7 separate regions of the Homo sapiens genome follow, and regions 1, 3, 4, 5, 6 and 7 are each reported to be linked to region 2. The links are microRNA targets in miRTarBase. Many come from high-throughput screens and were not tested one by one. Region 2 holds a microRNA gene; each other region holds the end of a gene's coding sequence.
What was found. Region 2 holds the annotated microRNA hsa-miR-30e-5p (UGUAAACAUCCUUGACUGGAAG, at 1,524-1,545, opposite strand). A microRNA usually pairs through its seed, bases 2 to 8, with sites in the 3' UTR of a target mRNA and lowers its output. Matches are read on the target gene's strand: a 7mer-m8 pairs with bases 2 to 8, a 7mer-A1 pairs with bases 2 to 7 and ends in A, and an 8mer does both.

Region 1: the mRNA of TGFA is a reported target of hsa-miR-30e-5p. Seed matches in the 3' UTR shown: 7mer-A1 at 2,052-2,058.
Region 3: miRTarBase lists NAPG as a target of hsa-miR-30e-5p. Seed matches in the 3' UTR shown: 7mer-m8 at 3,169-3,175 and 8mer at 1,344-1,351.
Region 4: the mRNA of TRAPPC9 is a reported target of hsa-miR-30e-5p. The part of its 3' UTR that is shown has no 7-base or 8-base seed match.
Region 5: miRTarBase lists SEMA6A as a target of hsa-miR-30e-5p. Seed matches in the 3' UTR shown: 7mer-m8 at 1,389-1,395.
Region 6: the mRNA of GXYLT1 is a reported target of hsa-miR-30e-5p. Seed matches in the 3' UTR shown: 8mer at 3,505-3,512.
Region 7: miRTarBase lists MIER3 as a target of hsa-miR-30e-5p. Seed matches in the 3' UTR shown: 8mer at 3,033-3,040, 7mer-A1 at 2,877-2,883, 7mer-A1 at 2,546-2,552, 7mer-m8 at 1,879-1,885, 7mer-A1 at 1,563-1,569 and 7mer-m8 at 1,226-1,232.

What each region holds. Positions count from the first base shown.
Region 1 is chr2:70,446,776-70,451,086 of GRCh38, reverse strand. It overlaps TGFA (transforming growth factor alpha), which reads left to right. Exons shown (of 6, transcript NM_003236.4): 6 at 221-3,803. The coding sequence ends at 228. Among named protein-coding and RNA genes, the nearest start is that of TGFA-IT1, 33 kb to the left of the region's middle.
Region 2 is chr1:40,751,542-40,755,915 of GRCh38, reverse strand. It overlaps MIR30E (microRNA 30e), which reads right to left and starts at 1,561; the gene lies at 1,470-1,561. It overlaps NFYC (nuclear transcription factor Y subunit gamma), which reads right to left. Exons shown (of 10, transcript NM_014223.5): 5 at 2,670-2,765.
Region 3 is chr18:10,549,475-10,553,804 of GRCh38, reverse strand. NAPG (NSF attachment protein gamma) reads right to left here. Exons shown (of 12, transcript NM_003826.3): 12 at 1,041-3,728. The coding sequence ends at 3,585. Among named protein-coding and RNA genes, the nearest start is that of NAPG, 26 kb to the right of the region's middle.
Region 4 is chr8:139,727,329-139,731,702 of GRCh38, forward strand. TRAPPC9 (trafficking protein particle complex subunit 9) reads right to left here. Exons shown (of 23, transcript NM_001160372.4): 23 at 397-3,900. The coding sequence ends at 3,733. Among named protein-coding and RNA genes, the nearest start is that of KCNK9, 26 kb to the left of the region's middle.
Region 5 is chr5:116,443,181-116,447,512 of GRCh38, forward strand. It overlaps SEMA6A (semaphorin 6A), which reads right to left. Exons shown (of 19, transcript NM_020796.5): 19 at 375-4,332. The coding sequence ends at 3,433. It overlaps SEMA6A-AS1 (SEMA6A antisense RNA 1), which reads left to right and starts at 4,318. Exons shown (of 3, transcript NR_109879.1): 1 at 4,318-4,332.
Region 6 is chr12:42,083,851-42,088,208 of GRCh38, forward strand. GXYLT1 (glucoside xylosyltransferase 1) reads right to left here. Exons shown (of 8, transcript NM_173601.2): 8 at 1-4,097. The coding sequence ends at 3,936. It also overlaps the pseudogene LOC101929308. Among named protein-coding and RNA genes, the nearest start is that of GXYLT1, 59 kb to the right of the region's middle.
Region 7 is chr5:56,919,637-56,924,010 of GRCh38, forward strand. It overlaps MIER3 (MIER family member 3), which reads right to left. Exons shown (of 13, transcript NM_001297599.2): 11 at 4,279-4,374; 12 at 4,055-4,197; 13 at 1-3,949. The coding sequence ends at 3,492. It also overlaps a transcript of SETD9 not described here. Among named protein-coding and RNA genes, the nearest start is that of SETD9, 12 kb to the left of the region's middle.

The DNA.
Region 1 (4,311 bases), not on the chromosome of region 2:
ACTTTCAATCAGTCTCTCTAGCTTCCTTTGGCACTGAAAGTACTAGGTCAGAGGTTGCGGTCCCTGAGACTGAACCAGCAGAATTTGGACTCGGGCCTAACTGCCCGAGAGAACTTGGTGACATTGGCTCTGCCATCTCCAAGTCTCTTTCCTAAGCTTATTTTCCCAACGTGGCCAGGGTGTGGCCCACAGTGCTTAACCTGTTTTTCCTTCCTGCCAGTGGTCTGAAGAGCCCAGAGGAGGAGTTTGGCCAGGTGGACTGTGGCAGATCAATAAAGAAAGGCTTCTTCAGGACAGCACTGCCAGAGATGCCTGGGTGTGCCACAGACCTTCCTACTTGGCCTGTAATCACCTGTGCAGCCTTTTGTGGGCCTTCAAAACTCTGTCAAGAACTCCGTCTGCTTGGGGTTATTCAGTGTGACCTAGAGAAGAAATCAGCGGACCACGATTTCAAGACTTGTTAAAAAAGAACTGCAAAGAGACGGACTCCTGTTCACCTAGGTGAGGTGTGTGCAGCAGTTGGTGTCTGAGTCCACATGTGTGCAGTTGTCTTCTGCCAGCCATGGATTCCAGGCTATATATTTCTTTTTAATGGGCCACCTCCCCACAACAGAATTCTGCCCAACACAGGAGATTTCTATAGTTATTGTTTTCTGTCATTTGCCTACTGGGGAAGAAAGTGAAGGAGGGGAAACTGTTTAATATCACATGAAGACCCTAGCTTTAAGAGAAGCTGTATCCTCTAACCACGAGACCCTCAACCAGCCCAACATCTTCCATGGACACATGACATTGAAGACCATCCCAAGCTATCGCCACCCTTGGAGATGATGTCTTATTTATTAGATGGATAATGGTTTTATTTTTAATCTCTTAAGTCAATGTAAAAAGTATAAAACCCCTTCAGACTTCTACATTAATGATGTATGTGTTGCTGACTGAAAAGCTATACTGATTAGAAATGTCTGGCCTCTTCAAGACAGCTAAGGCTTGGGAAAAGTCTTCCAGGGTGCGGAGATGGAACCAGAGGCTGGGTTACTGGTAGGAATAAAGGTAGGGGTTCAGAAATGGTGCCATTGAAGCCACAAAGCCGGTAAATGCCTCAATACGTTCTGGGAGAAAACTTAGCAAATCCATCAGCAGGGATCTGTCCCCTCTGTTGGGGAGAGAGGAAGAGTGTGTGTGTCTACACAGGATAAACCCAATACATATTGTACTGCTCAGTGATTAAATGGGTTCACTTCCTCGTGAGCCCTCGGTAAGTATGTTTAGAAATAGAACATTAGCCACGAGCCATAGGCATTTCAGGCCAAATCCATGAAAGGGGGACCAGTCATTTATTTTCCATTTTGTTGCTTGGTTGGTTTGTTGCTTTATTTTTAAAAGGAGAAGTTTAACTTTGCTATTTATTTTCGAGCACTAGGAAAACTATTCCAGTAATTTTTTTTTCCTCATTTCCATTCAGGATGCCGGCTTTATTAACAAAAACTCTAACAAGTCACCTCCACTATGTGGGTCTTCCTTTCCCCTCAAGAGAAGGAGCAATTGTTCCCCTGAGCATCTGGGTCCATCTGACCCATGGGGCCTGCCTGTGAGAAACAGTGGGTCCCTTCAAATACATAGTGGATAGCTCATCCCTAGGAATTTTCATTAAAATTTGGAAACAGAGTAATGAAGAAATAATATATAAACTCCTTATGTGAGGAAATGCTACTAATATCTGAAAAGTGAAAGATTTCTATGTATTAACTCTTAAGTGCACCTAGCTTATTACATCGTGAAAGGTACATTTAAAATATGTTAAATTGGCTTGAAATTTTCAGAGAATTTTGTCTTCCCCTAATTCTTCTTCCTTGGTCTGGAAGAACAATTTCTATGAATTTTCTCTTTATTTTTTTTTATAATTCAGACAATTCTATGACCCGTGTCTTCATTTTTGGCACTCTTATTTAACAATGCCACACCTGAAGCACTTGGATCTGTTCAGAGCTGACCCCCTAGCAACGTAGTTGACACAGCTCCAGGTTTTTAAATTACTAAAATAAGTTCAAGTTTACATCCCTTGGGCCAGATATGTGGGTTGAGGCTTGACTGTAGCATCCTGCTTAGAGACCAATCAACGGACACTGGTTTTTAGACCTCTATCAATCAGTAGTTAGCATCCAAGAGACTTTGCAGAGGCGTAGGAATGAGGCTGGACAGATGGCGGAAGCAGAGGTTCCCTGCGAAGACTTGAGATTTAGTGTCTGTGAATGTTCTAGTTCCTAGGTCCAGCAAGTCACACCTGCCAGTGCCCTCATCCTTATGCCTGTAACACACATGCAGTGAGAGGCCTCACATATACGCCTCCCTAGAAGTGCCTTCCAAGTCAGTCCTTTGGAAACCAGCAGGTCTGAAAAAGAGGCTGCATCAATGCAAGCCTGGTTGGACCATTGTCCATGCCTCAGGATAGAACAGCCTGGCTTATTTGGGGATTTTTCTTCTAGAAATCAAATGACTGATAAGCATTGGATCCCTCTGCCATTTAATGGCAATGGTAGTCTTTGGTTAGCTGCAAAAATACTCCATTTCAAGTTAAAAATGCATCTTCTAATCCATCTCTGCAAGCTCCCTGTGTTTCCTTGCCCTTTAGAAAATGAATTGTTCACTACAATTAGAGAATCATTTAACATCCTGACCTGGTAAGCTGCCACACACCTGGCAGTGGGGAGCATCGCTGTTTCCAATGGCTCAGGAGACAATGAAAAGCCCCCATTTAAAAAAATAACAAACATTTTTTAAAAGGCCTCCAATACTCTTATGGAGCCTGGATTTTTCCCACTGCTCTACAGGCTGTGACTTTTTTTAAGCATCCTGACAGGAAATGTTTTCTTCTACATGGAAAGATAGACAGCAGCCAACCCTGATCTGGAAGACAGGGCCCCGGCTGGACACACGTGGAACCAAGCCAGGGATGGGCTGGCCATTGTGTCCCCGCAGGAGAGATGGGCAGAATGGCCCTAGAGTTCTTTTCCCTGAGAAAGGAGAAAAAGATGGGATTGCCACTCACCCACCCACACTGGTAAGGGAGGAGAATTTGTGCTTCTGGAGCTTCTCAAGGGATTGTGTTTTGCAGGTACAGAAAACTGCCTGTTATCTTCAAGCCAGGTTTTCGAGGGCACATGGGTCACCAGTTGCTTTTTCAGTCAATTTGGCCGGGATGGACTAATGAGGCTCTAACACTGCTCAGGAGACCCCTGCCCTCTAGTTGGTTCTGGGCTTTGATCTCTTCCAACCTGCCCAGTCACAGAAGGAGGAATGACTCAAATGCCCAAAACCAAGAACACATTGCAGAAGTAAGACAAACATGTATATTTTTAAATGTTCTAACATAAGACCTGTTCTCTCTAGCCATTGATTTACCAGGCTTTCTGAAAGATCTAGTGGTTCACACAGAGAGAGAGAGAGTACTGAAAAAGCAACTCCTCTTCTTAGTCTTAATAATTTACTAAAATGGTCAACTTTTCATTATCTTTATTATAATAAACCTGATGCTTTTTTTTAGAACTCCTTACTCTGATGTCTGTATATGTTGCACTGAAAAGGTTAATATTTAATGTTTTAATTTATTTTGTGTGGTAAGTTAATTTTGATTTCTGTAATGTGTTAATGTGATTAGCAGTTATTTTCCTTAATATCTGAATTATACTTAAAGAGTAGTGAGCAATATAAGACGCAATTGTGTTTTTCAGTAATGTGCATTGTTATTGAGTTGTACTGTACCTTATTTGGAAGGATGAAGGAATGAATCTTTTTTTCCTAAATCAAGACTGGAGTGTTTCTTTAATGAGATTAGGATATTGCTCAAGGAAATGAAGACTTTTCTCTGCAAATATGAATGATGAGGAAAAATTAGATGATCTTTTGCAAAATGTGGAAATCCTATAATTAACCATAGTTGATCCCTGTCTCCTTGAAGAATTCAAGTTCTCTGAAGCTCTTCCCAGTGTATAAGTACTTAGTAGACTATGTGTCCAATAATGCTAATTGATGTGGTAGAAAATATATACAACCTCTGCCACTGCAGGAATTGAAATCTGGTCGAGAAGACAGACTGATACGCTAAGAATAATTCAGGACTATTTCTAGACAATACAAATAAGAGATGAAATTATAAGGTAGAGCATATATGTTAACAGCTGTGGTTCTCAAAGCATGGTTCCAGACCTGCAGCATTGGTATAACCTGTGAACTTGTTAGGAATGCAAATCTTTGGGCTCCAGCCCAGACCTACTATACTGTGGGGGTGCTCCATACTCTCTCTGCCCTCTG
Region 2 (4,374 bases):
GATCTTTTTGTCAGACAAAAAGCAAACCCTTTAAAAACCCCTTCCAGAACCCAAAATATCTCTTGCCAAAAGCTGTGAGAGCAGGACAAGAGCTCCTCCTATGCTGCTTACTACATCCTCTTAAACTGTTTATGAACTAGACAGTATCTAGGACACTGAGAATCAAGTGGAGGCACCTAGGTTTGTGTTGTTAGGACAAGGCACAACTGTTCTCAAATCACTGGAATGGAAGAAGGCATATCTAAGGCTCTTCTGCATTATGAAGACTCATTCTGCCAATGGAGGTCAAGCCAGCAAGGAAATGATTATGCTTGGTTTAAAGAAATGGGTGAAAAGATAATGACATTTCAATGGGCAGGAACTTTCAACTCAATAGCTTTAGTGGGGCAGAAGTCAGGCCTCAACTACCTCCTACCTTCAAATAATCTTTACTTGCTTCTCTGAAGAACAAGCGAAACTCTCAAGTATCTTTGAGAAGTCAGGGCCTTGGACTCACAATTCAGTATTTCTGACTAGTTCCTTTTCCCAGCAGTGGGAGGTTGCCCCAAGTGGCAGAACAATGCTTTAATGACTGGATCAATCCAGAATGGGGCACTTGCTCAACTTTAGCAGTGGCCTCCCCAACTACAGGGCTTGCTCTTGGAATCTTTCCAGAAGCTGAGACTGACGAACAGTGCCAGAGAAGAGCAGCATCACATCCTAGGGCCATCTCTACAGTGTTGTGCAACCAGCCCTGACTGGAAAAAAGTACATTCGCTTTAGTAGCAAGAGTGAACTGCTGCCTCCTTCAGAAAGGGTGGGTTTTGGAGAGTAGGCGTTTTAAAGGACTTTAGGAGGTGCCAGCCAATTTGAAGCCTGGGAAAACTTCATGTCTACAGAGGATTAAAAATGCTATCTTAGAATTTCAGGCCAGCTTTCAGCAATCTCAACCTTTCAAAGGCCAGGCAGCAGCTGTCCCGAATACGATGCCAATCAATGCCTCGAACACCTACAAAGAACTAAATCCAAGCAACAAGAAGCTGTTTCAGCTAGACACACTTTAAAATCAGATGGATCATAGCATTTTGAGTCTGGCTAAGATGGAATAAGGAGCTGTATGACACCCCGAGAGACCCAGAAGCACTGAGGAATTTGGAGGAACTGACAGGATGTGACCCTTCTCTCCAGCCAGTGTATTCAGCAGGCAGCCCACAGAAAACAAGGAGTTAGCACAATGAGAGTGAGCAAGGCCTGATTTCATCACAGAGCTCACAATCTTGTTTTAAAGGGGGCTTCTGATAGACAAAAGGAGAAAACAATTTCAACAAGGAAAGCAGGTGTATGATACTCTTTGTTCTGAAGGAAGATAAATGGCCTGAGTTCTTGTTGTGACTTCTGAGAGAGGAGGGAAGGACCCCCAAGAGGAGGAATTGAGCCTGTGGGCACAAACCTGCAATGTTTCAAAGCCGGTGCGTAGCTGGGGACGACCGTGGCAGCCTGCCGCTGTAAACATCCGACTGAAAGCTCCTCTGAACACCTTACAGCTTCCAGTCAAGGATGTTTACAGTAGCAAAGACTGCCCAGAAAGAACGGAGACGCAGTGAGGCACACCCTACTCTAGTAAGGAGGTGACAGAGGGCTTGCTAATCCAAAGGCCCTCATGCAGGGTCAGAATTACAAATGTTCATTAGGATGCCCACTTCTCCTAGACTTTCTCTGACTGGTTATTAATACAGGCTGGGATGGGGAGAATGGCTGTCACTGAATGACTGCTTCTAAGGATAATATACTATGAAATAATTCATTAAAAATAAAGTTTTATATAACAAAGCAAGCAGAACAAGGCACAGCTTTGCTCCTGTGAGATTCTGCCACAATTTCCCAAGTGGCACCTAGTGAATCATGCAATCTGCATGCTTAAAACAATGAGCTCTAAAGGACAGAGGTCTATTACAATCACAATTAAGAGCTATATGCACCCAAGGTGCTGAAAAAACAACTAGTGTGACCTTTGGAGAGGGGCAGGCAGAAGAGACGGGAAGGCAGACGTTCATATTCTTTCTTGTGATTGCTTGCAAAACAGCTCAAGTGGTGGTTCTCAAATCTGACTGCACATTAAAAGCATCCAGGGAGTTTTAAAAGGTACTGATGCCTGGGCTCCATCATGAGATTCTGATTCAGCTGATGTGGGTTAGAGCCTGGGCGCTGATATTTTTAAAACCCCAACAGGTGATTCTAGTGTGCAGTCAGGGTACTATATAAAGATATAATGAACCACAATATAGAGGAAGAGAAAACATAGTCCATTCACTCCAAATGCCACTGTGCACATAGAGAAGCTGTTTCTTAAAAATCTAAAATCTATAACTTTCTGGGAATATTCTCCTATCCCAGATGAAGAGCTCTGATAGACTTCCTAAGATAACTTGAAATGAGCTTAACTTTACCATTTGTAACTAAAGTCTTTCATTTTCATTTTGTCTATTTTCACTGAAATACCACTTCGGAGGCACTGAGTTAAAAGTATCCAGAAATGAGTAACAGAAGGAGATGTTAAGAATGAATCTGGTCTAGAAACGAGAAGCAAAAGGAATAGCAAATGACTTGTGCTGAGAGAGAAGGAGCGTATCTGACACCAGTATACAAAGCGCTCTTCAGTCAGCAGCAACTGCAATCCCTTCACAGCTCACCTGACGCTTTGGAGGTTTCAGTTCATCTCTTGGAACAATATCGATGAGAAAATCAAACTGATCAAATTTTGTAATTGCCATGGCGATATCATTTCTCTGTAACAAAGAAGAGCGGTGTGAAAAATTAGCCTGGGGAGAAACTAGTTCACTTGGCTTTATACCCTCCAAGTAAGGTAAGACGACTTTTAAGCCAAACTAAACACCTACGGGCAAGTCTACAGCTGAAATAAGCACAGCCAAACTCATATACTTTAAATGATCAGACCTGGTGGGCAACCATCAACAAAAAAGAAAGAGATACATGTAACTCACACTGTAAAATGGGGTATCTGAGCCTCCAACCACTGCTACTCCTGCTTGATCCTCTCCCCGCGATTTTCAAATTACAAACCTAGTAATCTCAATTAGCAGGTTTCTGGTCATTCTGTGGGTTAGCAAAGTTAGGTTTATAATCTTTTTAAGGCCCTAAATAATATTTTCCCTTTGGTTCACAAGTATTGAATTAGGTAAAATCCTAATTCAATAACTTTTTGCAACATTTTCAAGTCACTGGATCTATATACACTAAGTTCTCACAAGCTATGATTTTTATTTGGGAATTCTAAATTGCAATACTTAAACCATGGGTTTATCATTGCAGTTCTGAATTCCCAAATAAAAAACATAGCTTGTGAGAATTCTGATATTCATAGTTTGTGCTATGAACAGCAGCAAGAGAGGTAAGAGAACACAGGAGTCAGAAGGCTAATGATACTGAAACCAAGACCTGCTCTAATGGGGGTTTCTCTCCAAGTGTGATACTTCCTTTCTTTGAATAATAAAATTAAAAGATTTTTACTAAAACCCAACATATTATGTATAGTTAAGATTTGTGTACTTTACTAAAGATTTAAAGCAAAAGGAAAAACAATATGAAAAAACACTGAACGCTAGTGAATGATATGCATGTTAAAGTATTTGGGCAAAGTAAACTTTACAATGCACTTAAAAACAGATTACTTGAAGGATGGATAGAGGGATAAACAGATATGAGAATAAAATAAGCATAGTAAAATGTTTATGGTAGAATCTAGGTTGTAAGTATACAGGTATTCACTGTAAACTTTGCTTATGTTTGAAATTTTTCATAATAAAATGCTGGGGAAAATGTTAACACACTAACAGAAATCCTTAGCAAACTCTATATACCACACCTTAAAAGGTGACTCATCGGACAAAACAGGAGAGGATGGAAATTTTTTTTTTCTTTCCCTTGTATCTGTGATGGCCCCAAGCCTCTGAAATGCAAAACTCTAGTCCGCCCTTCTTGCCAACCACGAGCTTGACGATAAACCCTCCCAACTGAAGCAGGGCCCATCTTAAGATTGCCAGAACTCATTTAAGATGACTACAATATAGTGTCACATTTTTTGATGTCATCTACTCAATCTATCTAAATGGCTCATTTATTGATGGAATAAAAGGGGAAAAAGAAAAATAATAAACATCTCCAGCATATAATAAAATATTCTAGAGTATTTTGGAAACATAGATATACTTAAGTTGGTCTTCCTAAAATTTTTATTTGCTTTTTAAATTCCCTGAGGCAGGAGGATCGCTTGAGCCAGGAGTTTCAAGACCAGCTCTGGGCAACATAGTAAGGCCTCATCTCTACAACAACAACAACAAAAATTTTAAGCCAGATATGGTGGCATGCACCTGTAGT
Region 3 (4,330 bases), not on the chromosome of region 2:
TACTTAAGTAGTGGGAAAAATTTTTTAAAGTTTTAAGGCTGTTTAAATTAGGCTCCTTGAAAAATTTAAGAGAGTCAGATATTAAAAAACTATCAAGGTAATGTAACTCTATGGGAGCTAATTAGCCAAGTTTGTGAAGTGGAGGTAATTATCTAACGGCATTTTATTCAGTGTCCTTGAGTATTAATTAAAAGCCATGTAAGTTGTTTCTATGCACAAAACCTTGTTGGAATAAAAACAATTCAGTGGAAAGTTTGTTTTCCTTTTTCAAAATTGGTGTTTGCCTCAGTCCTTCTTACCTTCAAGACGTTTTTAATATCCTTAAATTTAACTCATCACATTAAAGTCATTATTGAGGGTTTCTTGATGAGTCGAATGAAAGCAACACGAGGGGTGACAGCAGCAGGTGGACTTTGCTTATCCTTCCTGGCTATCTCCTCTTGCTGCTACAAACACAATAGTGACCACAAACCACATTCAAGACACTCCAAGGTGTCCTGGAAGAAACACAAAATCACACGATGTCCAACAGCCACTCGTTCTGCATTCTTTCTTACTTCAACTTCTCCTGAATCCAGGTATCAAATTATATTATTAATTTCCATTCCATGAAAGACAGGGATAATATTACATAGTTAGCATCCAATAAATGTCTGATTGTAAGTAAATCTGCTAGTATTTAAGGTGCTAATTATGTAAACAATTTCACATCAGTTCTCTTAGCCTCCTAATCATACATGGTTTTATCTCACTTAACCCAATCAAAGAATTACTCTCTTGGAAGAGGTATTAGTCTTTCATCTCACCAAACAGCAGTATATGTAGTATTACAATAACTGAATGACTGGTATTTTAAGAAGCTCAAACAGTTTAAATTCCCAAAGGTACCTTACTCCCAAAGAGCAGAAAAGACAACTGCAGATAACAAAATACTGTCCTTGTAAAATAATGCTGAAGTCATATAATTAAGAGAATGTGTCCCTGGAAAAAAGAAAATTAAAACAAGCTAAACAAAATAAATAATACAAAGAACAATTATATTTATATAGTTTCAGGTTTTATTTTCATAATTATCTTCCTATAGAAGCAATAATCTGTATTTCCATAACAACACATTTAATATTCTACTCATCAGAGTTGGGAAAAATAGGAATAAAGCAGATTCCATACAGAAATACCGTACTCTGCATATGTACAAATAAATTCAATATATTAAATCTATTTTGTAGCTGGACTTCACTTACAATGTAACAGAACATTGAATATTAGATTCTGAGCATATTCATGCAAACTTCCACTTTGGTGAAAGTGATGACAGTGGAGTTCTGGAAGACAATTTTCCTTGTAAACACCAAGTTTTGCACTTTGGACTATGCTCTCAAGATAGAAACTTACGTGAGTGGAAAAAGAAAATGTATAAATGTGAAACAAATATTCCTTACCACACAGAATAACCCTGACAACAAACAATATCCCCAAGTCCTGGTTATTCAATCCTCACCGTGGGCAGGAAGGGTGAAGGAGGCTGCACCTGGACACAGCCTTTTGTGTGGTTTAAAGCATAGCTGCGCTGCTGCTACAGAATGCACTTCATCATCACCTTTTTTAAAAAAAGTTTTCAGTACATAAGAAGAGTAAAATTAAAAAATTTTTTCCCCCAGACTTTAATGGGTAATATGATCTATCTATACATAAATAGTCTACAGTATCTTTAAAGTATTGCCAAATCTGTTTAAACAGATTACTAATTAGCTCAAATGAGCATTAATGTAAGACTCCAGAAGTTTCCGATTGGATCTAAAGGATACAAGCTGCAATGATGGGATCTTTGAAACACTGCAATGTCCTTAAATGCAAATGTCTACATATAGCTTGTTCATAGTTAATCCCAATATCATTAATAAAAATGAGGTGCTACCTGAAGAACTATGCCAATAAATTAAGGAAGAAAAACATTAAATTTATTAGCATTTTGTATCAGACTTACAATAAAGACTGTATACCAACATCCACGCACCCGAGACCACCTCCCAAAGGAGGATGTTATTCTAAGCTCTCCCGCAGAACTGTGACTAAAATCACTTCTGATACTCCACCTTAGTGTTTTCAGGAAGTCTAGCAAAATTAAGCAACCTATACTCAAATAAGGTATGACTCTAAAAGAGACAGAGACAGGGCATGGATGAGCAGGAATTACTTTGGCAGCGTGTACCTGCAGAACGCACACTGCTGGTGTCTGTAGCCTCTTTCCAATTAACAGATTACGAGATGGGTCTAAGCCACACAACAGGGTGAAAAAGGAATGTTTCGAAAACAGCATTTTAGGAAATAACTATAAAGGATCAATATATTGGCAGTGCGGTGTTTTAAATATTGTCTTTCTAAAACAATTCTTCCCTTTCAGCTAAGTTTTCATAGTATATAGCATTTTCCATGTCAAGTTATGACGGAGTTACAATCAAAATAAAATAAACAATCAAAATAAACTGTTTTGGAGGGAAGAAATATATCTGTATTAGACTGATGGAAACATTACCTCATTCTTACAATGTTAGAAAGATATTCATAGGCTGGGTGAGGTGGCTTATGTCTACAATCCCAGCACTTTGGGAGGCCAAGGCAGGCAGATGGCTTGAGCTTAGGAGTTTGAGAACAGCCTGTGCAACATGGAGCAACTCCATCTCAACAAAAAAAATAAAAAAAAAATTACAAATTAAAAATAAAAACATTAGCCTGGGAGCCGTGATTGTGCCACTGCACTCCAGCCTGGGCAAAAGAGTGAGACCCTTAAAAAAAAAAACAAAAAACAAAACAAACAAACAAACAAACAAAAAGGTATTCATTACCCATTAGCTCCTATTTGGTCAAGAACCAAGTAGATTTGAAGACAGTCACTGTATGTATTTTTTAGATAGAAGAAATACCCACACTTCAGAGAGGACTGAAGATATTTATAGATCACTTCAATATGCTACCTTCAAAATTTTTCAAACTCATAATATATAAGAGCTTCAATGCATCTTTTATTGGGCTAAATAATATTGTAAGGCTCAAAATAACTTCCTGTCCCCATCTCATCTCTGAAAAGACTTAATAATTTAAATGTATCTAACATCATGGGGGATAAATTTACTTTTCAAAACAAAAAAATTTTAAAATGATTTATCAGTAAACATCACCTTTAGCAGCAATTATTAAATGAAACGTAAAAAACAATTCACTAACAGTAACTTACAAGTGTCCAAGAGAGAATACCTATGCTTATTACCCCTTTTGTTTAGAACATAATTTATGTATAATTTGGCTTGCAAATTTTTTAATCAATGTATTAAAACATGACAGTACATTTTCTGTTAATTCCTGCTGGTGTCTTAGAAAAGCTCTTATGGAAAGAAAAAGATATGCTTCACAGGTAATGGATACAATGAGTGATTTGGGAAGATGGTAACTAAAAACTAGTCTTTATTAGGATCCAAAATCATGACTGTAATGAAGTACGGATATCCCTAATCTATTCCCAAGTCCTTGAAATGGCATGTCAGGATTTTACCTTTGTTTCCCTTTTCTTTTCAGCAAGCAAAATACTAGCATAGTCCTCCTGAGTATTCATCTTCCTCTTCATCAGCAGCCGTGGCAGTGACACCATCAGGCTTGGCCTGTGGTGTTGCAGGTGATTTCTTCTTGATTCCCCCTCCTGGAACCACCAAACTCAGGCCCAGCTTAGCATACTGTCAACAACAGAACATGTTCTTAAAAGCTGGATAACTAGAATCCTAACATGTTTTACTCAGCTCTAAAAAGACACAGCCTGGCTCCCCACCCTCAGGAACACCAATTCTACCATTCAGATGGAAAAACAAAGCCCAACAATGCTGCTCCCCAGATGCCTCATGACCATGGTGGGACAGGTACACAACTAGTAAAAGTTTCAATTATAAATTTTTTTTAATTAAAACTTTAGAAATATATATATTTTCAAAACCTATGTAAGACGTTATTTAGAAAAAAAATTATCTACATATATCATTATAATAAACAACTGAAGGCCTTAAGTTGATCTGATACTATGATGATACTCTAAAGGCCTAAGGCCAAACAGGTACTTACAAATCTACTGAAAAAGACAAATGAGAAAAAATAAAAACTTATAGTCATGGTTCACTTTATGTGCAAGACATCATGTGAGGATATTTCTCACACACTGACTAATGTATTCTTCACAACAGTCCAGCAAGACAGGTACTAGTGGCTTCATTTTTACAAATGAATTAACTGAGGCTTAGAGATAATTAATGACCTGCAACACACAGCTAGTCCTCACAGATTTTCA
Region 4 (4,374 bases), not on the chromosome of region 2:
GCTTTGGCAAAACCCCTCAAAGTGGAAGTTGGCATCAGTGCACAGCTCACCTCCCAGGACTTTGCCTACACACAGGTACTGGGGTGAATATTTCTGACTCTCCTGCCGGGTCATGGATGCACTTACAAATGTGTTTTCAGTAAGAGGCTTAGCCTAGACCCTTAGTCTAGATCTCTAGCCCTTCATGTTGAAAGCCTTTTTTGATCAAAATTTATTGTGTCTTAAGACATTGCTTGAGGCCCCAAGAGCCATGTGGTCACATACATCTCTCTCTCTTCCCTGCTTACTGGGATCAGAAATACCTCTTAACAAGTCATCATTGACAATTTCTTGGCTGGTAGGCTCAGAAGCCCCAAATGATGCTTACATGTTTTGAAACCATCTACAGGTCCGGACTTTGCTTGAATACTTCTATTGACAAAGAGCTCACTCCATCAGCATTTCCTGTCCCATTTCAGCACCTGTGTTAGAAAGTTCTTCCTTACATGCTTCATGTTACCTAATACATTAAGCCATGCAGGGGACTAACGGAGCATAGCAATGTGGCCTGTTAAGGGTTCCAGGAGAAGAATGGAATTTCAGGCACATGGCACAGGATATTTCAGGCACAGGACATGTGGATGGAATTAAAAAGAACAGCAATGGGAAGGCTAGGAGAAGGGACCCAGTATTTATTAAGAAGTTGCTATCATGTGCTAAAAAAAAATCTAGGAGGTTAAATCAAATAAACTGATATGAAAGTGTCCATGAAATAAGTATTTTTATCTCTATTTATTCAGATGAAAAAAAATCAAGGCTTAATTTAAGTAACTTGTCCAAGGTCAAGGAGTTGACAAGTGGCTGAGCTGGAGTTCAGCATCTCAGACATCTTCCTTTGAATCCTTGCCTTCCTTGTGAATTTCAGATGACGGAGCATGACGGCTGCATGATTATGGGGTCACCGGGCCTGTCCTGGCCCTGAGGGACCAAGGATCAGAAGGGCAGAACCAACTCGCTCAGCTAGTGAAGTGCAATGGACATGATCTGTTCCTGGCTTACCCTCCGCTGGCCTTCAGGAGGTTTCTGAATGCACCAGGGGCCTAGAGAAGCAGCAACTGCTGGACTGTATTGCCAGGTAGCCAGTAGCGTGGGGCCCTGGAAGAGGCTGGAGGATACTGCGCTGTCACTGAGACACCTGCCCCAGGTCCTCCATCTCAGCCACTGCCCACAAACACAGCTCCACAGCCAGAAAGACCCAGCCACAGAAATGCCAGCAAACAACACCCCTGGCTCCCCACATCCCACGGTAAAGCTCCAAACGCTTGGAGCACACACAAGGCCTGACTCCAGGTCACCTTCTCTACTGGGACAGAAAGGGTGCCCTGGGGGTGGGGAAGGGCCTGGGGCTGGCAGAGCCAGGCTGTATTTGGGTCATTTTCCAGGAGGCCTGGGTTATTTCTAACACCCCCTCCTCCAAGAAGACAACTTTGCCTCCTGCCCCTTGAGGTTCTTCCTTCTTGTGGCATCCAGCATTTTCTCTGGTAACTGTTGTGGGTATTTTTTGCAGTTTGGGAAACTAAAAAATATAGAAAACTGCAAGAAATAATTACAGTCACCAATATGCTTGCCACTCAGAATCAAACACTGCCAGAGTTTTCCATATTGGCTTTTCTAGGCTTCTATATGCATCTATATCTAATCTGGATCTGTGGCTGGATCTATATCTGTAGCTATGTGTGTACCTGTATCTTGATCTATTGTGCTTTTGAAAGGAAAGTACGTACTCAAGTCCCCGGTGACCAGCACCCTCATGCTGACATCAGATGTCAAATGCAACTCCAGTTCAGGTCACTCTTCTACAGGGGATGTGTATCCTTTCTACCTTTTAAACATGTTGTTATAGACACGTTCTGAGGCATAGAAAATTTATAATTTGGGGGGACATTGTCTACACAAGTGAGGTTGGGCTGAGCCCATCATCCTGCAATGTGTTGTTTCATTCAATGGCGTATTTTTGGGCTCTGTTGAGGTTGACACACATGGATGCTGTTTGTTCCATTCAGAAACAGCCCAGGTGGCCAGGCCCTCAACTACGCTGAGGCATCCTGAACGGAAGGGCTGAAGAGACCGCCCTGGGGTCTCCACCCCCTACTGCAGCCAGACCTTCTGGGGCTGCCTTCCCTGGGGAGCCTCGAGCAGATGCTGAATGAGCTCCAGGAACTGAGGGCCACTGGACACCCGCCCCCACATGCCCCCAGCCCACACCACATCACAGTGTGCTCCCATCATTCACTGAGCGACAACAGGAGGCCACAGATGGAACAAAAAATTTGTTCCTTAGGCCGGAGGCCACAGGGTGACCTTGCTCCCAGCGAGGGAGGTTTGGGCCTGGGACTTCAGGTCCTCAGGAAGTTCCCTCAGCCCCGCAGGCCTCCTGATGCCAACATGACTCTGCCCCATGGGAGGCCAGGGCAGCCACTTCCTGGCTCTGCCTGTTTGGCCAACTGGCCTTTAGGAAGCCCCGCTCTCTGTCCCCCAATACTCCATGGGAGTTTCAGTGCCCAACGGGCACCTGACGAGCCTGGTATCTGCTGGGGACCAAGGGCTGTTTATCCTCCCTGGGACCTGGGGAGCTAAGGGTCAACACAGCCAGAAGCCTGCCCCCAGAACAGGACTCTTGTGGGTAGTGTAGACACACCCCAGCTCTGGCCCTCAAGGGAGATGTGAGCCGTGTGCTTTCTCTCTCCGGTCCTCCCTGAGGAACGCAGGGCCAGCTGCCCACTGTGGCGGCAGCTCGGGCCCAGTCACACTCCTTCACTGGTGATCTCCCTCCCCTGCAGGCCTCCTTCCACCTCCCAGACAAGCTGCTGGTGACCAGATTCCTGTCTCAGCGTTTGCTTATGTGAGATCTCTAACTCAGAACCCGTCCCTTCCTGGGTCCGGCTTCTGCTGGGAAGCCAGCCACCTGAGGTGGGGGCTGACGGGCTGGGTGGGGGCCCCGGACTGCACTGGGCTAGCAGATGCAGGGAGGCAGGGAGGGGGAGGCAGGCCATTTATTGAAGAACTGCTTGCAGACATGGACACACACAGCCATGGTAACCAGACGCCACCCTGGGGCCAGGGAGCACCCAGAAACAGCCCTGGGCTGCCAGCCCAGGCCTGGACATTTGCCCACCACGGGTGGAGGGCCTCTCTTGGCATCAACCATCCACGACCTCCTACGGCACCATCTCTCCTGCCAAGTTGCCCATGGGGGTCTCCAGGAAGAAAACCAGCCTTGGGGGATTCCAAGGCCCAGGGAGGGTGGGAAGCTGCCCACGCCCTCAGGCTGTGCCCAGTCTCATGCTCACCATTTCTTTCTATGGCCAAAGGGAAGTCGCTGGACGAGGGAGGTCCCTCTGCTGGGATGAGCAGCACAGCACGGCTGGGGCCCCAGGTCACAGAAATGGGTGCAGGGATCCTGGGACCTGGGCTGGATGGGCACCCGCTTTGGGATTTCCTCTGCTTCAGCCTGTGTATGGTCCAGGGAACAGTGTAGGAAGGGGCGTGGCATGGGGTGGGGCTGCCATGTCCGGGGCTTCTGCGTAGCCCAGCAAAGATGCTACAGGAGGAACAGGAGGAGAGGGCTGGGAGGGGTCTGGGGGAGGAGGAGGAGATGGGGCTGCAGTGAAGGCCTTGCTCATTGCAGGGGGTGTGGGAGGCCAGGCAGGGTCACCTCTGGCCCTGCAGAAAGAGGGACGGAAGTAGGCGGGCTCAGGCCTGCGCCTCCAGGGCACACACGTGCACACTGGGCAGGCAGAACCAAGAGGGTGGCAGCTCCTTGCTGGTGCTGTCCTCGTGGAACCGGATGTGGAGGAAGAAGTCTCCCGTGTAGAGGAAGAGGAGGGCCCCGAGGCAGGCCGACTGGCCGGACGGCTGCACCTGAGCAGGGAGGAGAAAGACACATCAGTCTGGTCAGCAGCAGGGGCCACCCAAAGCCACCAGGAATCCTGGGAATCTGCCTGGACATAGGTGTTATGGGGGAAGCGAGGGCCGCCCAGGCCTGGCTCCAGTGCCCCCTCCAGCAGGTCACTGCGCCTCTCCGAGCCAGTTTTCATCTTGGAAAGGAGCTGCCAATATTCCCATTCCTGAATTGTTTGGGGGCTCAGGGGGTCAGGAGTGTGGGAGGGTCAGGAGTGTGGGAGGGAGTGAGGGAGAGGTTGGGGCAGAGGGGAATGGAATGTTAGCCTGTGCTGGGGCCTGACAGTGAGGTGCTGAGAGGCAGCTTGAGAGGTAGGAGGTGGGAGGTGGGGGCTGAGGGCGTAGGGCTGGAGCCTTTCCGTGGAAGGAGCGGCAGGCACGGGATGGGTGACAGTGACATCACAGTGATGCCACAGCAGGGTCCAATCATGGAGC
Region 5 (4,332 bases), not on the chromosome of region 2:
TACTAAAATCCTAGCCTTGATCTCTTAAACTATCAAGCCTACCATAAATGTTTGATGATGAACAAGCCCATAAAAAGAAAATGCATAAAATGAATAGAAGGAGCCAATGCATGCTCTGCTTTTTAATTACCGGTGGCTTCTGCTAAAATCCTGCTCCAGGCTGGGTTTGAGCAGAGAAACACGTCAATAATTTGGGTGGGGGTGGCTGGGTGTGGACACTGCAAACAAATACATCAAACTATACCGTTATGTATGCTTTGGAAGCCAGATACAAATGGAGGAAAGAGTAGCATCATACCCACAAAGGGTGGGGAGGAGAGCAGCTTAAAAAGGAAAAATTAAGAGATAAATAAAAGCATTCAGGACACAAAAGATAATATAGAACAGTCAGGTTTTATTACTTTTAAGTAATAAAGAGCCTTTTCCTTGCTTTTCTTTTTTCCCTTTTTTTCTTTTCTTTTTTCTTTTCTTACAACATACATTAAGTCGTGAATCAGATGTTAGGGGATGTGGAGATGGAAGGAAAATTGGTGACATCACAATATTTTTACAACTTTACAACAAATATAAATCTGAGTTTGTTGCATCTACCAGTGTCTAGCAAGGGTGGAAAGCAAAGGCACACTCGGGTTTATGGACCCTCCCCCCACACACAGTGGGGAAAAAAACTGGGGAGAAATACTTAAATGCAGAAGACCAGCTCAATACATGTGGGTATTTTAGGGTTAACACCAGAAGTGATGGGTTGTGGGGGTGTAGGAATGTGGATGTAAGTTTTGACACAGGTCTCCTTAACAGCTGAGGCAGTGATGCCTACAAACACTGGACAAGACAGCCGCTTACGTCAATGATGGGTGCTGCACTGCCAGTACTCTCGGGAGTCAAGCATGGGAAAGAAGGGGGCAGGGGGATACAGACCCATCACCTTCCTAATTTCTGCATTTCTAGAGAAAATTCAAGGAAGAAAACAATATTTCAGGTTCTAGGAAATACTTCAGGGTTTCAGGAGACAGAGTTCACAGGATGTGAACATGGATTCCATTACAAAAGCCAAAAAAAAAAAAAGTAAAAACAACAACAACCACCTACTCCTAAACAACAGCAAAACTAATGGACTTTTGGAACAAAGGGCTCTCACCCACCCTCAGCTAAGTACTCAGGTCTGAAGGCAACCACACTGATTATGGAGGCTCCACTTTTTCACTATCCAACTCAAAACTGTCATTGTCAGTCTTTTTTTGAATTCTTTTTAAAGACAAAACTAAACCCAGAAGATCGAACTGGAAATAAAAGCAGACAAAGAGACCACCAAATATACTGTTTAAAAAAACAACAACAACACTGCTCATGGTTTACAGTATGTGGACAGTTCCTTTGTTCATGATAGAGTAAACAAAAGTCCCTTTTGTGTGCTTGAGCAAATGAAAACCAAGAGGAGAAAAACACACACCACCTCCCATCCCCTAAAAACATAATTAACAAAATAAAAAATAAAATAAAAAATCCTTTGCCCCAGTCAACGTTTTTGCAGCATCCATTGTGGTCGGCCTTGTACTTGGAGTTACTCGTTAATCACAGCAGGGACCAGCCTGCCTGCATCTATTTCCATGTCATTTCTTTGTGTGCACTGCACGTGTGTGCTGTGCACATGGCTTGGAGACTCCTCCCAGGTGTCTGCCCAACCGCGCACCGCCTGCTCTCTAGCCAGTGGACGCAGCAGAAAAGAGGAATGGGACGTTAGTCCCTTTTCTGCTAGCAAATAAGGATATCACCGTATTGAAATAATCTAAGGGAAGCAGGGAGCTCTTGAGGATGAAAGGGGATTTGACACACCCACAACAACACTGGGGTCCATGCTTCGCAGCACAGCCAAAGGGTGGTTCCAGTTGGCACAACTAGAAGGCAGTGTGAATTGGAGGGTGTGGTGCTGCCCAGCGTTCTCAGGCTGTCGCATGACAACTATCACCACTGCATTCTTCCATCTGCTTGACTCCAATCTTTCAGAGGGCTGGAAGTGGGGCAGAGGGTGGGGAAGGGAGGGTTAAATAAATATCTGCACTTATTTCAAAAGGGGGAACAGTTGATCATAAAGAGTTTACAAGTGTACACAACTCAAGGTGTAAGGCACAAATTTACATGTGGAAAACAGGCTATTCACAGATGTAACCCCACGAAGAACCCGTGTGATCAAATCATTAATTTATGCAAGGTAGCAGCCAGCATATTAGTTCACACCATTTGTGGATTTTGTTTGCTGTCTCACATGCAAGGTGAAATGGGATGGCATATTGCAAGCTGGTGCCTTCACAGAAAGTCAGAACCATGGACAAAACCATGTTGGCATCAATGAGATATGATGTGCCATTCTAAAAGCTTTCTCTCCTGATTGCTTTAGAAATTAGGATCTGGAAGGACTTTAACATGAATTAGTTTTTTTGCATGTTTATAGGCCAGAGACCTGACCAGGCAATGAACTGATAGATTTAAATAAATATTCCCCTCCTAACTTTTTCCTTTAGCTACAGACCAGACAGTCCAAACACAAAGCTCAGAATTCCAGCTCCAACTTATTTACTCAGTGAATTTATTGTAAAAATAAAGAAACTCAATTATTCCAGTTAATGGATTTCACGTTAAATAGTTTAACTTTCAATGGGCTTTCTGAAGAGCTGTTCATAGGATGATATTTGGAAGAGTCCTTTCCTTAAGGAAAAAAAGGGTGAACAATAAATAAAGAGTTACTTGCGTTAACGGTCACGTTATTTCATTAAAAGAGAGGAGGAGCAGAAATCTATGACATAGTTGCCCAACATGGCATTTATCTGCTGCAACAGAAAGCTGTAACACTGGCGGGCATTTCACAGTATTTGCGCATAGTAAACTTCTGCCATTGTTAAAGTCTGAGTTAGAATTATCAATGAATTCTTTTTTTTTTGTCTTTTTAAATTTTCTTGATTTTAAAAAATGTATTTGTGTTTTGCAGGTTGGAACGCAAACCCAGTCTGGCCACGTCCCGTGAAGTTGTGGACAAAATGTTTCAGTTTCTGTTCACCTCTGTGCGTGTGTGTGTATGTGTTGTGTGCATGTGTGTGTGTGTGTGTGTGTGGGGGTGGGGGATGGGGTAGGTATGTGCTTTTGGCTCATGTTTGTGATGATAACTGAAGTCTTTTGTGGGTCCGACCTGTTGTAGGGTGTGGGGGAAAGTGAAGGAAGAGAATGAAGGTGAGTCCCCGCCGTTGCAAACCTTCACCAAACCACGCGGCCCAGTTTTCGTGAGTACCCCTGTGTCCCAGAGAGGAGGACCCAGCGTCCTCGGCTCTGCCGCAGGCCTTCTTGGTCTGGTGGGTACTCGAGGCAGTTGAGAACCTTGCTGAGCTGAGCGGGCACCTCGCCTTGCCTGCTGGTTCGACACCTGACCCCCTCCCCCTGGGATTATGTACACGCATCATTGGGCTTCATGGATGTGGAAAGGGGAGCAAAGGATGGTTTGGGGGGTACGTCCGGCTTTAGCGAGGGCGTACGCTTCAGCCCCGACCTTGTCAGTGAGTTGTAGGCGTTGAGGCTGGGCTGCCTCGAGACAGTCACGGCCTGGCCAGATGGCTGGGAGCTGTGCACCTGGATGGAGTCCACCCTCTGCGGGGCGGGCGGCGGGTTGTCTCCCCTGCCAAAGCTCTGGTTTCTGGAGAGGTGAGAGGAATTGGAGGAGTTAGTGTTGTTTCTTTTGAGAGTGGTGGCCTGGTGGCTTCTCGTGAGCGAGTTCGTGGGGTAGCTCCTCTTATAGTCAACCCCGTAGGAAGAGGAGTGGTGCATTTCCAGCCGCTTGCTTAGACCGGTCTGAGACAGGGAGGCTCCCGGGGGACCCAGGGAGGCCTCCCGCTGTGGAACTTTGGGGGGCAGGCTGTCCAGGTTCTCCACAAGGTTCACCCCATGGTTGGGACTCTTGCTGCTGAGATGTTCCTTGATGGTCTTATACTCCAGTGTGGCGGCCTGGTCCTCCAGCGCCATCTGGGCCACCTCGCTCATTTTGGGCTGGTCCACGTACTCATGCTGGTAGCCCTGCTGCGTGATGGGCAGGACCACCACGCTGGGGATGTGGCTGGGGGAGGCCCGCAGGGGCAGGTCCGTGGGAATCACAGGGGAGCCCATGGGGGGCATGTCCTTTGTGCAGGCATTGATGAGGTTCTGGTTCCTCTCCCACTCGCGGCTGCCGCGGCTGGGCTTCCGCTTCTGCTGCAGCGTTGGGGTTGACTCTGGGGTGGGGAGGGCCGTCAGGTCCAGGTGGTGCTGGTCTGCTTTAATGAGCATCTTGGCCGTGTTGCCGGGAGTGGCGAG
Region 6 (4,358 bases), not on the chromosome of region 2:
CTTCCAACCTCCACTGGGGAATATGTAGTTAGTCTTGCAGTCTAACACTTGGGATGGCTAAAACAATAAAGTTAAAAAGGAAGATACTTGTATTTCCACAGGTCCTAGCTCACAAACTGGGATCCACTAAAAAAAAAAGACATAAAATGTTGAATTGGCACTAAATGATCAGTGAGTAGGGTGATTGGGAAACAACTCTAGTACTAACAAACCAAATACAGCAGGCCCTGCTGCCCCATTCCATGGAAGTCAGCACCTTTCCTGACCCCAGAGAGCCCAGGCAAGCAAACTGATGTAGTGTGAGGGCTACAACTCAAAAAGTAAATGTTTCCACACCATTTCTCTCCATCTCTACTTCTCAATTTTCCATACACTCATTCCATCTTTTCTCTTACTCTGCCCTTTGCCATCCCCATTCTTACTCCTTTCTCTTTCCTCACCCCTTTTCTCACTTCCTCTCTTTTCCTTCTTTTTTGATTTAGTTACATCATTCTTTTCTTCTCTACTTTCTCTTCCTGAAAAACTCTTCCTTACATAAACAAATTCATACTGGAGATATATGTCAGAAAACATTCAGCCTGAGTAAACTGAACGCTCTGTACAGAAAACAACGAACAAAACAGAACTTCAACAGTAACACTGGCGTGGCATAATATAAGCCACGCAAAATGCTTCCAAATCCATTATCTCTTCTGAGTTTCATCTTGTGAGGTTTGAAGGGTACACTGATTGTACTTAAAAACCTAAGGCACAGAGAAGGGTAAATAACATGCCTGAGTTACTAAAAAGAGAATCCAGATCTAGTTCAAAATCTGGTCTTCTTTTCACTATACCAATAACATCTGACTGGAGGCAAGATGAGAGAGCAATGAGTAAGCACTAATGTTATTTCAGGGCCTTAAAACCCTTATATATTATGAACTACTCTTCATTAGAAAAAAGTATGCATTTTCTTAAAGCATAAATCACAATATATATTTTTAAAGGTTTCCCAAGTTCTTTTCTACTTCATACAAATGAAGTTTGACTGCATTTTAAAGGCATCCCACTTTGGTAATACTGTAGCCCAGAGATAGTTCTGAGGTCAGAATACATAGACTCAAATAATAAATCATGTAGTTTATATAAACTGCATAGATACACTATGTTTTATGAAAGACCATTTATATGAAGATGGAATACGTTCTCTAAGTTGTCCATCTATAATTTAACCTCTCATCAACTCCAAGAACTGCATTTCTTTAGAATTCAAAAGAATTACCTTGTCTAAAGATAAATTCAGAAAATTCATTTAAAAATTATTATACATATTTTGTGATACCTTTAATTTTAGGTAGAAACAGTACCCAAAAGACAGTTTTCACTATAATTCAATTTATGGTAAAATGATCAATTAGGTCAGGTCTAAATAAACCAGATGAAGAACCTTCCAACTGATCCACAATGTAGTGTGTGTGACAGTGTAAATAAGCCACAACATGAGTGAGACCACAGCATACAGTCCAGTTGGATTAAACTGTGACCACGCTCTACACAAGTCCCAATCAATTAGAGCCCATGGGGCTGAGATTCTCCGTTCACTGAGGAAATTTTATCTTATCAAACTTACTAATATAAATTCATATCCTGTCATTAACCCCAAATGCTTCCTCTAATATTTCAAAATCACATTTATAATCCACCAAACGTGCCAAGAATTGTGGTATCCTAACTTGAACTTTCAAGTTGGCAAAATAATTTCCAGTGGTTCTCAAAGTAGCTAACATCAAAGTCATCTGAGGTGATTGTTAAAAACGAAATCATCATGTGACTTATATTCTGTTGATTCTAACAAACCAACTAGAAGATGATTTTTGAGATAATCAGGGAAATTTGCTTAAGGACTGGCTATGAGATGAAGCCGAAGGACTGCTGCTGCCTCTGTTAGGTGTGATATCGTGGTATCTACCCAAAGTGTTCACAGCAGTGAAATAACACAATGTATGGGATTTTAAGATACTTAAGCAAACAAAAAAATGACAAATGAAGCAAACATGGTAAGATAGTGATAAGTGTCAGATCTGGATGTTGAGTACCAATGCACTATTCTAGTTTTGTGTAATTTTTAAATTTCTTCATTAAAAATTGTTTTACAGACTCCCTCCTAGACACAGCATGCCAGAGTCTCCAAAGGCCTAGCTCAGGAATCTATTCTTAAGCTCCCAACAAGAATCTTACATAGTCAGGCAGGCAATGATCATTATTTGAGGACCATTAGAAATGATCTAATACATACCCTCCAAACTTCACATTTTTAGTATTCTCATTTTCTACTCAGTAAGCTCAATTTCACAGTTTCTTATATTCACCATGGCATTCTGCCAAGGAACTACAACTCGTGTTCTCTAAACCCATCTGTTCTAAGAATGCTGGACTGGTTATCAACTTCTAATGCACCCTGCTTAAACTTTCCTCTCTCAATTTGTCCCTGACTGAACTGCAGACGACAGAACAACTGTACTAACCATCTCTTTCTGCATATTCCATGTCTCCACAGAGGTCACTGTGTCTTCACAAAGCTAACTGCCACAATTTTCACAGGTTGTATTTTTCCTTCATGATTTTCCATTTTCTACTTGAGCATTAAAATATCAGGGAGAAAAAGAAGATAACCATATAGATAATCATATTGTTGGTAAAATAAGATATGTGCCCCAGCATAGTATATGCTAAGTATTCAGAATCTATAGTTATATTAGCTAACAGGTCAAGAATGCCAAAGAAGTAATTTCTCAAGATTTAAAAAAATTAACTGTCTTAGGTGATATTCAAAAATGCACATCAACCCAATTAAAACCACATTTTCTACAGCTGGATGTAACAATCTTATTCCAAATCATCCACTTAAGTTGTTTAACTTACTTAAAGTAAGGCTCTAGACATTTGCTTCTTCAAAAGTATCTTGCAAGGCCGTTATGAGGTAGAAGACAAGTTTAAATGGACCATATTTTTCTACTCCATTGTAACTAAAATTACTACTCACAGGAAGTATATAGCTTATGCATTTTGGTCCATCACACTTTCCACCATCATGAGTATACTCTTAAGGTTCTCACTTTACCATCAGCATAATATATTTTGCTTCCAGAATGCCCAGTAAAGCTGACGTTTTTCATTTAAAGTGATTAAAAAAAAATTCCCCAAATATCTATTTAACAATCTTAGATCTGAGTTTTGGCAAGACAGTTTAATGCATACAAAATGAAACACTACATTTCTCACTCTCTCTCACACACAAACACGCACACACAGATTAAAATCCCAAAGTTTTCACTATTTTTCCTCTACCTTACACAGCTCAATTTTTAACATGCAGCTTACTTGTAATCTAAAAATAATTTTAAACATGATTGTCATAAAAATATTTTAAAACAGAGATGAAATGTATAAAGGCACACATAGATTGTCAATGGTTACATCAGTTACATCACATTTCTTCAGAAACAACAGACCTGTTTCTGCTCCTGTAAACAAACTTTTTTCTCACACTTTTAAAGTGAGGTTAGTGCTGACATAAAATTATTGCTCTACTCACAGTCTTGAGTGTTGGCACTGTTTGAGGTACATTTTCTCCATCTACACACCCCTACCACTCTTGAGAGTATGAGTCAACAGAAGTCTGCAGGTTAAACCCATTCAATAGTATTTTCATCAATACTGGAATGATAGCAAGTAACATTACAAAACATCAGAGATAAAAAATGTTCAATGTTGAGGCCCAAGATTTTAACTTATTCTTCATTACCTGAAAATACTGCTTACTTAACTTCTTTAGGAAAAAAAAAATTATTCTGGAGATGAGTAATTCCTTCCTGAATACTTCATCCAAGACGATTCCTTCACACTTATCTTCTGATTCTTTGTTTTCATCCATTTGATTAAGCAGTCACCAAGAATCACTTTTCCTTTGGTGATCTGGCATAACGATCTCTTACACTTTTTGCTAGTTGTTTGATAAATATTTTGTAAATTTTTCCACAGTATGTATGCACTGTTTTTTGTAGTTCCAGTTCTAAAGGTTTTAATAAGGAACGGATGTTGTCATCTTCAAAAGAACACTAGAGAAAGAAAATTTTAAAAAATAAAAAATTTAAAAGGCAAAGGTACATATGTAAGTTCAATTATTTTCCAAACTTCTTCAATCAGTTTAATATGAACGATCTCCATTTAACGTCTCACAGAAATTAGATGTTTAACAAATATTTTCAATAAATTAAACAGAACTATTATCTCCCATTAAAGAAAGACAGCCATGGTAAATCTCCGGGGGAATCCTGGAGAACATGCGCAAGGGCAGAGAAGACTGAAATACTGGTTAA
Region 7 (4,374 bases), not on the chromosome of region 2:
ACCAGGTATTAAAGTACAACAAATACAAAATAATGCTCAAAAAAATCAGTGTTTATGTACAAATATTAAAATCAATGCAATAGCAACTTCCTCTTGAACATCTGATACTGAAACTTGTTCTGATTGTCACTAATTTATCTCATACTCACAGGGTACTTATTTCAAACTGGGACAATTGGAATCACTGGTCATCTAAGAGGAATATTAATATCTACCATATTTAACAATAAAACTAATAGTTTCCTCCATTTAGTGAAAAAATTAGGAACTTTTTAAAAAACATAGTAACGTCAATATTTTATAAATTATTTCAATTTCCATTTGTAGACAATGTGCTTTGAAACTCTGGGCAAACAATCTCCTTGGTGGTCAGGTTTATTTGTTAGTTTACATTCAAAGTTGAAATATTCACTAGAGACTTTGGTTAAATTAAATAGTATCACTATGCTCTATTAGATCTGATGTTCTCAAATATTTATGAGCCTCAACATTTTAAAAATTAAAAAGGAAATGATTGCACAATTCTTTGATCTAATTGTACAAATTTTAGTATTTTTTAAACAGTATTCTACATCCTTCAAGTAAATTCAGCAGCTGACCATGACAAGAGGAAAACTAAACATTTAAAAAGCTAGCATGAAAAAGATGAAGTACAACTAACAAATGTATTGCTATAATCACAGCACCAGTTACACTTCTAAATGAATCCACTGTCCTTTTCAAATTCCCTGTACATAAAAGATATATCAGCCAACACTGCAACTGCTCACCATGAATTTTTGGTTTGTTCATAAGAAAATAATGGGGCAAAGGAAAAAAAAACAAAAAGAATTTATCACAGTTTGTTATAAGAATTGTGCTTAACACTTGATAATAAAGGCATTATTGTTTCTTCACATGATTGCAAATCCGGTTGTTTTCTTGCTTCCAAATGCAATTCTTTTAATAAACAGTAACAAATTCTCTGTTAAGATGTTTAAACTGAGAGAAAAAAAAAACCCAGTAAATCCAGCTTTTAAAAGAAAATTCAATAAATAGCTATTTTACATGGATAAAGTCATAGTGGTACAATTTATGAATGTCACATCAAGCATGCACAAAAATGGTATTATACATGGCAGAAGTAGTCAGAAAATATTGAATTAGATCTAAAAAGATATGAAGAATTTACACTTATATACAAAAATCTTGCAAATTATTGCCTCATTTTAACAAGGAATTAAAAGTAAACATTACCAGCTAGTTAGCACTCTCTAAGAGGCTAAAATCAGATTGACATTTAAAAATCTATTAAACTAGCTGGAATTTATTTTTCTCTCATACCATTTTCTGGATTTTGGTCAAAAATCTTTATTTAAATAACTAAAGTGTCCATTCAACTTGCTGATAATCAAAACTTTAGATAAGAAACACTGTTTCCATCTTATATCAAGACCCCAGCAATGCATAGATAAACTGAATATATTACTGCATCAGCTACTGAGAATGGGCATGTTCATTTAAGTGCAACTGGTATTAGCATTCAGTCATCTTTGTGTAAATTATTTATACAGACCAGCCACTGTAAACCCAGAGTGAAAATTAAGGTTATAACAATGGAAGATTATGGCCAGTATCTTACTAAATTATAGAAAGTGTACTGATTTTTAATAAAAGAAATAAGGTTCAAAGTTTAGCACAACAACACAGCAATAAGAAGCTGACAACTTGGATAAAAATACAAGAAAGTAACACAGAGCCCAGGCTACCCATTATTTACTGTGTGCATACAGGAATGCTATACTTCAGATGTATAAATTAGAGACTGATTTTAAGTTATTAATTTAACTACTTTTTGTCCACTGTGCTAAACTAAATTTTATACTAATGTGCTACTGCGTAAACACTTCAAAGCAATCTTCATTAAAATGCTGCAAAGAAAAACAAGAATACACATCATCCAAAACTAAGGATGTCATTGCAGTTCACAGTTTGTATAATAAATACCCTCCCTTTCAATCACTACTAAGATCACTACATCCTATCTACTCATCAGCACAACCTTGAAGCAACTTATACTTACAAATATTAGCAATGCAGCCAAACATTTGTTTTTTGCAAAGCAACTAGTAAAAATCAAGAATTTTAATTAAGACGGTGCAAACAACATAATTCTCTATTTTAACAGTACTACAAAAGCAAAGATTACATCCTAATACTGTATTACATATTGTTTGATTCACCTTATAACTTAAAAATGCATGTTTATAGCACAAAAATGGCCAAAGTTTAGGACAATGGCTTCTCATTCACAATATTTGGAATAAAAATAAAACTGAGTTTGAGATACATCTGAACATCTATCAATTTTTAAAACTTAAAAGTGGTAATGTACCATTCTATTTCAGATAGGAACTCACATTATTCTTGCCAACTGTTCAAGCTTAACAAAAAAGCTTAAATATACTTCAAGGTTCTACTGCATTAGGTATAAAATCTAGAAGTCCCTCTAAATATTAACACTTTGAACTGCAGTGCTACAAACAACTTAAAAGATGTCCCAAAATGTAAACCATTGAGTGGCAACATCCTAGGCTTTGTAGACTGTGCCTCTGCAAGTCGACTGCCTCAGGATAAACTAAATTATCAATGACTGGTATGATTTTTAAGATTACAATCTTGACAATGGTGGACAAAACCCCATCTGAGTACCACATCTTCAAATGCCAAAACTGTAGCCAATAAATGAAGTTACACAGAAATCTCCTGGCAGTAACATGACCAATTCTGTGTAAGGTAGCCCTGGTCTAGAATTTTGAAACAGGATCCAAGCAAGCGTCTTCATTATTTGCACACAGTTCCTTGTGCTGGCTTCCATAAAGATGGACTTGCTGTTTTGTAAACTGAAGTGCTCTAGTTGAATAACATGAGAGAAGTTTCCATTTTTAAAAAATCCTTGCATGTTTGTGCAGTTTAAAGAAACCTACCCCTGCTTTTATTAAGAAAATAAAACCAAAAAAATGCTACATTGAGCAGGGATCGGGATCGGTACCTGTAAACATTGTTATTCCACTGCATCCATTACGGCAAAAGGAATTTACACAAAAACAGGCCACACCATTCAGTTCAGAACATCTGTGCTGGTTTTGAGCTGGTGGCCTCTGTCTACAGGTTTTAAAATTGGGAGTGAGGGCAGTGGGGAACACAAAAGAATAGAAAAAGAAGGGAGTGGGGAAGAGGTATTGGGAGATGAGGAAGAGAGAAGCAGAGCTTAAAGCTGCACCACAGAGTTCAATCTTAGTTCCCAACTCTGCTGATCATAGTTCATTTCCACATTTATGGATTGAAAAATGAAAATACTCTTGATAAATCAAGATATAGTTCTATACATACTGACATCACTGATGTCATAGTGAGAAAGGTTCAAACTTCCAGTGAAAGACTATGCAAACCTGATAGCTCCCCTCAAGTTTACTGGTGCTGCACACGCAGTTCCGGGATCCTCACTCAGGTCACTCAGAGTGTAGGGCCGCGTGCTGATGCAGAGCATGGGCACTGATGAAACCATTGGTCTCGTTGGCAGAGAGACTGCCAAAGTCAGCCACAGAAACAGCCATTTTGGCACTGGTGATGTGATGTGTGTGATTTTCAAAGTCCACACCCAGGTTATTTACAGAAACTTCATTCATAAAGGATTCAGGGACGGCAATGCCCATTTTCAATCTTTTTGCTGGTCTCTCTGACTCTTCACTGCACATGTTCATAGGGTTTAGCTCCGAGTGATAAAATCCAGTCTCAAATAAATTAAAACAATCACTTTCCCCATTGCTGGGCAGGGTGAGTAACTCTTCTGTTACAACAGGCACATGATTAACTTGTCCACGGGGTGTGTTGCCCAGTGGAGGAAAGCTATCATCCAAACAATTCACATCTGTGGGGTCGCAGACGGTTGCTACACTGTTGGTCAAAGCTAAAAAGGAATGGAAAATTGTTTAAGTAAGTGGTCCTATGACATCAAACAGAGGACACAATTTTGCAACAAACTGTACTAAATGCAGAAAGGTCTTCATTTTACCTGTCAAGTCACTGGCAGTGAAGGAGTTGAGAATGTTTAGCTGTTGATCAGGAATAGGCTCAGGCCGGTTAGAAGTTAAGGCTGAAGCATTTACCGTCCCACCCAAAGCTTCTGTTTCATCTACTAAACGATCCATATAGTCCCTGAAAAACACACCCCAGTAATTTTATGACTATATATTACAGTTAAAAGTAAGTCTTTGAAGGCAAGGCCACAGTACTTACGTAACTCCAGGGTGATGGTTATATCTTTTTTTCCCAAATCTTGTCTGTTGAGCAAAGTAATCATAACGTTCAGATTTCTTCCACATATAGTAGAAT